Regions from separate parts of the Homo sapiens genome. Here region 2 is linked to region 1. The links come from fine-mapping of genetic effects on gene expression. A gene starts in region 1. The other region holds a variant in brackets. All regions are shown on one strand. Distances are between the middles of the regions.

Region 1 (4,388 bases):
GAGACACCAAGTTGAATCCTTCTTGTTGATCTGGTAGAAGAAACTTGGAGGGAAGGTCCCAGAAGGTGTCATAGAGTGGTATTCGACCAGAAAGCTGCCTGTTTTTTTTTTTTATTCCTAAGGGACATCTATTCTACTGTACAGAGGAAGTCTGTGGCATGTGTCAGAAGTGCCTGGGCTGCCCAGGGTCCTAGCAGGACCCGTTTTAACATGCAGGTGGGCATTGAGTGGAGGGTGCCAGGGCCCACCCAGCCAACCCAGCCAAGCCAGCCAACTAGAATTCGAGGAGGTAAGCCAGCTTTTCCAAAGTTCTCAAGTTTGTCCAGGTGAAAAAACACCTGGAAATCAAGGGTTTTTTTCCTAATATTGTAACATGAAAATTTTCAAATATACAGCCGAGTTGAAGGAATTTTACAGTGAATACCAGGGCACCTTCCACCTAGATTCTGCCACTGACATTTTATGAGATTCAGTTGCATTTTGAAGAAATGACAATATGATGAATTAATAAATACAAATAAGAAACTTACAGTTTCTTGTAGGCTTGCGCTCAAATCCAGCCACTTACTAGCTGTGTGTCCTTGGGCACATTGCTTAATGTCTCAGAGCCTTGGTTTTCTCTACAACGAAATGAAAATAAGGACACATACTTCACAGGAGTGATTGTTAGGATGAAAGGGGATGATTACGTAAAACAGTGCAAGAACTGCTACACAGGAGGTCCTCCATAAATAGTACTGTCATGACACACACACCCGAAAGGATAGTCTTTATTCAGTTAGATGCCACATTTTATTAAAGTCTTGTGTGGACAAGAAGTGAAACCTCAGAGGAATTTATGAAGAATAATTGGAGGCACTTCCTTGTGACTTGGCTTCATCCGGACCGGATGACTTCTGGGTGCCAGCAACAGTTCCCCATTTCCATTCACGTTTCCCCACATCGTTCATGCCAAAGAGATGGGTGCCAAGAGGCCATCCGTCTTCATCCTGGACATAGAATGAGACGGGAACTCACTCTTGAAGGACTTTTGAAGTCTCAGAGAAGAAACGGAGCCACCGTAGACCTTTTGAAATACGGCCTGTGAGAAGCACGGTGACAGTCACCATTACTACCAATAATCACATTACTCTTTGTGGGAAAAAAGACCTACTATGTGCCAGGAAGGCTTCGGTAATCATCTCCAACACACACACATTCTCTCACACACACATGTGCGCATGTGTGCACACACACACACACCACACACACACACACACACACTCCGCAGCCCTTCTGCCATGCCCAGCTCAGGGCCATCTTCTCCCACAAGGATGCCGGTCTCATCTCCTGAAATGAGGTTGCAGTGAGCCGAGATTGAGCCACTGCACTCCAGCCTGGGTGACAGAGCGAGACTCCATATAACCTCTGCCTCCTGGGTTCAAGAAACTCTTGTGCCTCAGCCTCCCAAGTAGCTGGGATTACAAGCGCGTACCACCACACCCAGCTAATATTTTTTGTATTTTTTAGTAGAGACAGGGTTTCGTCATGTTGGCCAGGCTGGTCTCGAACTCCCAACCTCAGGTGATCTGCCTGCCTCAGCCTCCCAAAGTGCTGGGATTACAGGCATGAGCCACCGCGCCCGGCCTGATCTCAGTCTTTAAGAGAGCAGCAGCTCATCTGTGGCCACTGCTTCCCAGGGACTTGCCAGAAGGGAGGTGCAGGGCACAGGGAAATAACCCACCTCTATCTGACGGCTTCAATGGTATCGAATGTCCTCAGTGGCAGCACGCAGCACAGAAGCTGAGGTGTGGCTGCATTCCATTTGGAGAATTCCACTGTGATTCATGGTGTCAGCTGCGGGTTCAAGGTGTCACAATTTAATTATTAAACATCATGAGGCATTAGGAGGCTTGGGCACGCACTGATAAGTGATCCATTTCTAACACAGCTGGTTTATTACTGTTTGTGGCAGCTCCTGCACGAATTGGTGTCCGTTAACTAAGCAATGGTATTATAATTACACATTTAAATTATGTATGGGAAGGGTGTCAGTGGTAGAAGTCAGACTGCAGTGATTACTTTCAGTCTTCAGACCTCCTGGATGTAGTCTCTCTGCAGATAGCTGTAACTCTGGCTTGTTTTCTGCTCATTTTCTGCAGACATGTAGAATCCACTGCTAGGGTCCACTGAGCTGTCTTCTGGGTGGTTTTTGGTGCTGCAGGAGATAAACACATGTGTCTTCCTGGTTGGACCCAGTTGATGCACTAACCTAATTCTGTCCTTTGCCTGCCCTGATCTCCATAGCCTGCTTCTTCCTGGAAATTTGCTGCTGCTGCTGCTTCTTTTTTTTTTTTTTTTTTTTGAGACAGGGTCTCGCTCTGTCGCCCAGGCTGGAGTGCAGTGGCGTGATCTCAGCTCACTGCAGTCTCTGCCTCCCGGGGGTTCAAACCATTCTCTCTGCCTCAGCCTCCTGTGTAGTGTGGATTACAGGCACCCCCCACCATGCCCAGCTAATTTTTGTATTTTTAGTAGAGATGGGTTTTCACCGTGTTGGCCAGGCTGGTCTCGAACTCCTGACCTCAGGTGATCCACCCGCCTCGGCCTCCCAAAGTGCTGGGTCTACAGGCGTGAGCCACCGCGCCCGGCCGGAAATGTGCTTCTTTAGAGGAAAGCACCGTTGATCCCACCTCCTTGATCTGGTTTCTAAGACCTCATACAAACTGGGCCCGTTAGTCTTTGCTCCCTGATACTATCTGATACCATCTGGTCTCACTCCTTCCTTCCCATCTTGTTCATTCATTGGTTCACTCATTCATTCACTCACTTCACGCCCTCCCTCTGGTGAATCAGTTCCCCTCTGTCCTCCCCACTCTGTCCAGTCCTCCCCTAGGCTGCCAGGTTACATTTCCAAAACTCCGATCTGATCAGGCCCTCTTGGTCTCAGATCCTCCAAGGGCTTCCTTCAAGGGCTCCTGCACCAACCTCGTGGTGTGGCTGTGTGACATAATAAGAAACATTCACTTCTATTTGGTCTCTTTCCGGGTTCCTGACACAAAGCTCCTAATCCCTTGTCTTTGGTTTAATGAGGTGACTCTCAGTGGCTCCTGGGTGGGGTTGGGGGCTGAGCACCAGAAAGACCCAGATTCGACGAGGAGCCTGGAGCTTTTGGCTCCACCCCCACCCTCCAGGAAAGGGAGAGGGGCTGGAGATTGAGCTAATAATCCATCACGCGTAAGTAATGAAGCCTCCGTAAAAATCCCTGAACTACAGGATCCAGAGAGCTTCTGGGCTGGTGGACACATCCGCATGCTGGGAGGGTGGCGCCCCCCAACTCCACGGGGACAGAAGCTCCTGTGCCCGGGCCCCACCAGAGCTCGCCCTGTGTGCCTCTTCGTCTTCCTGTTCATCTGTATCATCAATAATGTCCTTTACAAGGACATTATTGTCCTTGTGATAATGAATGAGGAAGGAATTATTCCATTCAGGAAGGAATGAGACCAGATGGTATCAGATAGTATCAGGGAGCAAAGACTAATGGGCCCAGTTTGTATAAGGTCTTAGAAACCTATACATGTAACCAAAGTGTTTCCCTGAGTTCTGTGAGCCATTTTAGCCAATTACCAAACCCGAGGAGGGCGTTCTGGGGACCCCTGATGTGTAGCCAAGTCAGACGGAAGTGTGGGTAACCTGAGCGCCCAATCTTTGCAACTGACATCTGAAGTAGGGACGGTCTTGCAGGACGGAGCCCATATCCTCTCGGGCCTGTGCTAACTCTGGGTGGCCAGCGTCAGAATTGAACTGAAGTGTAGGACGCCCAGATGGTGTCTGCAGAGAGCTGGCCGGGCGTGGTGGCTCACGCCTGTAATCCCAGCACTTTGGGAAACCGAGGCGGGCGGATCACCTGAGGTCAGGAGTTGGAGACCAACCTGGCCAACATGGTGAAACCCCATCTCTACTAAAAAAAATACAAAAATTAGCCAGGCGAGATGGTGGGTGCCTGTGATCCCAGCTACTCAGGAGGCTGAGGCAGGAGAATCGCTTGAACCTGAGAGGTGGAGTTTGCAGTGAGCCAAGATCGCGCCATTGCACTCCAGCCTGGGCAACAGAATGAGACTCTGTCTCAAAAAAAAAAAAAAAAAAAAAGCGGGACAGACAGGGGTGGGAAGTTGGGGAGGGGGCTCTGGGAGGGGGAAGATGTGGGTGCCCCATGTGGAGCTAAGAATGGAGGAGTGGCAGGGGGCACAAGGTCACAGAACCAGGCTGAGGAAGAAGAGGTTGCCTGGAGGGTGGGACCCAGAAGCTACTGAAATGTCGCAGCAGAAATGGCCATTGAACGCCCCTTCTAAGGTCCTCGGTGGGAAAGTCAAGTCCTAACATCCTACATGGGGAAATCTACGCAGTTAGCA
Region 2 (4,388 bases), 6.8 kb before region 1:
TTAATATATTGTTTTATATGTATAATAGTTATATATCATATATGAAACTATATAATATACAGAAATATAATAATAACAGAAATAGATCTCTTTTTTTTTGGGACAGGATCTTGCTCTGTCACCCAGGCTAGAATGCAGTGGCACAATCTTGGCTCATTGCAACCTTGACCTTCCCGGGCTCAAACAATTCTGCCACCTCAGCCTCCTGAGTAGCTGGGACTATAAGCACACACCACCATGCCTGGCTAATTTTTGTATTTTTTGTAGAGACAGGGTTTTGCCACGTTGCCCACGCTGGTCTCGAACTCATGGGCTTGTGATCTGCCCGCCTAAGCCTCCCAAAGTGCTGGGATTACAAGCGTGAGCCACTGCACCCAGCTGAAACAAAGACATATCTGACTGTTGCTTGTGGAGGTGCCTGCCATTCCTCCCTACAGTGATTCACAGGCTCACCCAGCCTCTCCTTCTCCTTCAAGCCCCAAACCTCTGAATGCCAGGAAGGGTGGTAAGAAGTGTCTCTGCGCCTAGTACCAGTAAAGTTGGCAGGTCACTGTGGCTAGCGGGGGCACCATTGTTGGCCTCGGGCCTGGGGAGAGAAAAATATGACATACAGGGGGCCCACGGGGGTACGTTAGGTTCAGCCCTGTAAGCCCACACTGACCCTGGTGGGCAGACCCAGCCCAGGGAGGGGCAGGCAGGAGTGACCCCGTCATCAGGTTCTGCTGGCGAGCCCAGGGTGGTGACAGGCGCACGTCTTTTGCCGGGAGCTGAAGACGTTCATGGGCTTTCAAGCAGGACAAAGCTTCAATGTCATCACCAGGTAGCAGGCAGAGCAAGGGTGCTGACAGCCTGCAGAAGCCTGTGCTTATCTCTCCATCGGAGCTAAAGCCCATGTTTGCTTAGGGAACAGCCTGAAATTCCACCCCAGCTGCTGGGCCTTTCACTTTTGAAACATAAGCCCAGAGAGCGAAAGGGGGGAACGTTGTGCCCAGATTCTCTTTCTGAGCGTGAACTTGATGTTCCTGACCAGGAACCAGCCACTCGTACCGAAGGCCTTCCTGACCCCTCAGTTCTCCCCTGAGCCTTTGCTGTGTCCTGGGCACCAAGAGGTGGAGATAGGCTGTCACCGTGCACGTTTCCTAAGCCTGCAGAGGAACTGTTCACAGAATCCAGCCTGGAATCAGCCGTTTGTGGCAAACAGTCAGTAGCTATTTCTCAACTTGTGGTTGTGAAGCTGCAGGCTCCATATTCGCTCTTCACAGAGCATCCAAGCAGGTGTCTCAGTGCCAGCTCACACCGTTCACACTGCTCACACCAGCTCTGGAGAGCTGCTTGTACACATCTCTCCACAAGTCCACTTTCAGTGTTGCCACGTGGTACCGGAAATTTGCCATAGAAATTGGCCGATGGTACGACCAGAGAGCCACCTGTTAGATAGTTACCCCACATCCCCACCCTCAACACCACCTTAGACAAATCCTACTGTCAGAACATGTGGAACGGAGAAGGGACCTTGGCGGTTCATTCATAAATGTCAGCACCCATAGGTCTGTGCCTGTTTGGCCGCAGACACTGGGGAGCAGCCTGTAGCCTTGGCTTGTGCAGCTTCCTCTGCAGGAGGGGTGCCTCTTCCAAGAAACCTGTCCTGACTCCCCAGCCCTCCCCACCTCCATTCTCGCCCCCGCTGGACAATGCACACCCTCCATCAGAGCGTGGTGCATACCTTTCATCCTAGATCTCCCACCAGCTTTGAAACCAGCATCCTGTTCATGATGTCTGGAACCCTGGGAACTGTCCCAGCACCTGTTTAGCACATGTGTGCATGCGAAGGGGATCTGCTGAGTGCTCTGCTCTGGTGGGAAGGCCGCTCTGCACAGCTGGAGCTGATGCCTTGGCAGATGCTGGGCATCTGAATCGTGCAGTGCAGGAGCACAGGGGCATGGCACCGTTTGTTGCTGGGGAACCTAGGCCTCAAAAGGGCCTCAGCCTCTCCGCAGTGCAGTGAGGACTGTCCCATACTCTCACTGCGTACAGAGTATGGGAGAGTCTCTGTGAGGCTTTGGGTGCCCTGCAGAGGGAAGGCAGTGCCAGCTGGGCCTGGTCGGGGGCCATGGAGATGGCGGGCCCAGGCTGGGGAGGACTTGTGGCACCCACTCCCTTACCCGC[T/C]AACCCGGATCCCCTGGAATCTGCAGAATGCCTGGGGTTGCTCCTCTTCTACCCTGCCGTGGCTGAGCTTTGTCTGTGCCCTGTCCTCTGGCCACGGTCTTTGCCTGATCCCTACCCTGGTACAGGCAGAGCTCCCTGCAACCCCCAGCTGTTTCCCCAGAACTGACACCAGTCTCCCTGCACCACCCATCCTCCTTTTGACTGCCCTGGGGACGCCACTGCTGCTCTGATCCTCTGTCACTCCAGCCACCTCTTGCTTCCCTGTTATCACAAACACTGAACAGTGAGCTCAGGTGTCAGCCTCCACAGAGGCATGCACAGCAAGGGGTCCGGAGGCATGCCCCATGGAGAACTGGGGGTGCTCTGCTTGCAGGAGGATCCAGGGCCCATTGCAGTCCTCAGATGTTCTGGGGGAGAGGATACGCCTGCTTCATTTCTTCTCAGGGGTCAGAACTGGGCACAGGGGGTTGGAAGGAGGGAGAAAGATGTCTATCAGGTACCCACTGCATGCCAGGCCCTCTTCTAGGCTCCCTTAAAACCTTTCAGGTAGGCCAGTCACGGTCGCTCATGCCTGTAATCCCAGCACTTTGGGAGGCCAAAGCGGGTGGATCACCTGAGGTCAGGAGTTTGAGACTAGCCTGATCAACATGGAGAAACCCCGTCTCTACTAAAAATATAAAATGAGCCAGGCATGGTGGCACATGCCTGTAATCCCAGCTACTCGGGAGGCTGAGGCAGGAGAATGGCTTGAACCCGGGAGGTGGACGTTGCAATGAGCCGAGATCACGCCATTGCACTCCAGCCTGGGCAACAAGAGTGAAACTCCGTCGCAAAAACAAAAGACAAACAAAAAACACCTGTCAGGTAAATGGTGGTAGAGCAGAAAACCTGGGCTCAGAAGCTGGCATTGATCCCAGAGCCATCCAGTTTCAAAGCCCACACCCACAACTTTCCTCCAGGTTGGGCAGTGCATGATGGAAAGGCTGTCCCAGCAAGTAGTGAGTTCACTTTCACCAGTCCCTGGAGGCAGGAGCAGAGCCTGAGCTGACCACTTGGAAGGAGATGTTATTCAGGGGACTCGAGCATCTGGCGTAGGATGGGACTCCATGAGGTCTATGCCTCCTTCTAGCTCTGAAACTCCTCAAGGGAAACCATTTCCCAGATCTCTACGTTGCTGCAGTCCCTTCTAACTTCCAGCACACCTTCTGCTCTCTCCGCAGGTGTCGTGCGCCAGGTGCGGCCCATCGTGGGCCCATTTCATGCCGTCCTGAAGCTGGAGATGAACTATGTGGTCGGGGGCGTGGTCTCCCACCGAAATGTTGTCAACGTCCACATCTTCGTCTCTGAGTACTGGTTCTGAGGGCTGGTCTGCCGCACAGCCGCAGGTGCACCTCCAGGCCAAATCATTGCTGCCAGTGACTGTGGTCTGTACTTGTTTATACCCTCAGACTTTTTTAATGTTAGGTATTTGTAGCATTAGGCCAACATGTATTAAGCTGAGCCAGATGAATAAGTCCATCTGATGTATTTTCGGTGTTTAAAAAATGAGCCCAGTTGCTCAACTGTTTGGTTGAAAACCTTGCTCATTTTTTAATGCGAAGGCTAAGTGTCACCCCCTTTCTCTGCCTCTGGCTGGGCCTTGCTAAGGGCCAAGGAAAGAAAGACATTTTTTAGGGGGCAGCCAGTCCAAATGCCAAAAGAAGACCAGTTCTTGCCCTGATTGTATGAAATTTGACATTTTGGCACTTTTTTTTTTTTTTTGGCCAATCAGATTTTCTATGTTCTAAGGACATGGCTGCTGTAGAATAGCACAGACGTGGATGATAAATTATCCCCAGAAGCAGCATGACAGAATGCCTCGGGGAGCACTTGGAAGGGAAATTGCAGTTCTGTTGAAATAGAGGAAAATCCCTTGGTAAAGACACAGCCTGTTAGGCTCGTGTGGGCCTCCAGTATGTTCACCAGGGGAATGGCTGGGATTTCTCGGCACTCTGCATCATCCATCTTTTCTTATAGGTGGGAAAATAAACAACTTTGTGATCCTCCTGATGGCCTGTGCATGAGAGTCTTTCAAGAAGAGGGCTCTCTGCCAGCTCAGGAGTCTTCCGCCAGCTAAGGGACTGGAAATCTCCCCCCGCCGTCCCCCTGCCTCACCCCACCCAAGGTTGTCTCAGTGCTCCTCCTGCCCCTCAAGGTTCTGGGGCGGGGCCCAGCTTGTGTAT

Alleles and levels. Positions count from the first base shown, and alleles are read on the strand shown. Sizes are in standard deviations (SD) of each study's normalised expression.
In carriers of allele T in region 2, the expression in lung of the gene that starts at base 1,970 in region 1 tends to be lower than with C alone (small effect, 0.28 SD a copy in GTEx).

The links. PIP is the estimated chance that this variant, and not a neighbour inherited with it, causes the effect.
Region 2: its variant is the best candidate, but not a certain one, in a credible set for the expression of LINC01589 in lung (GTEx, PIP 0.50).

Annotation. Positions count from the first base shown.
Region 1 is chr22:45,603,678-45,608,065 of GRCh38, forward strand. It overlaps LINC01589 (long intergenic non-protein coding RNA 1589), which reads right to left and starts at 1,970. Exons shown (of 2, transcript NR_131244.1): 1 at 1,724-1,970; 2 at 755-1,081.
Region 2 is chr22:45,596,921-45,601,308 of GRCh38, forward strand. FBLN1 (fibulin 1) reads left to right here. Exons shown (of 17, transcript NM_006486.3): 17 at 3,387-4,215. The coding sequence ends at 3,526. Among named protein-coding and RNA genes, the nearest start is that of LINC01589, 6.5 kb to the right of the region's middle. The variant T/C (reference allele first, on the strand shown) is at 2,167.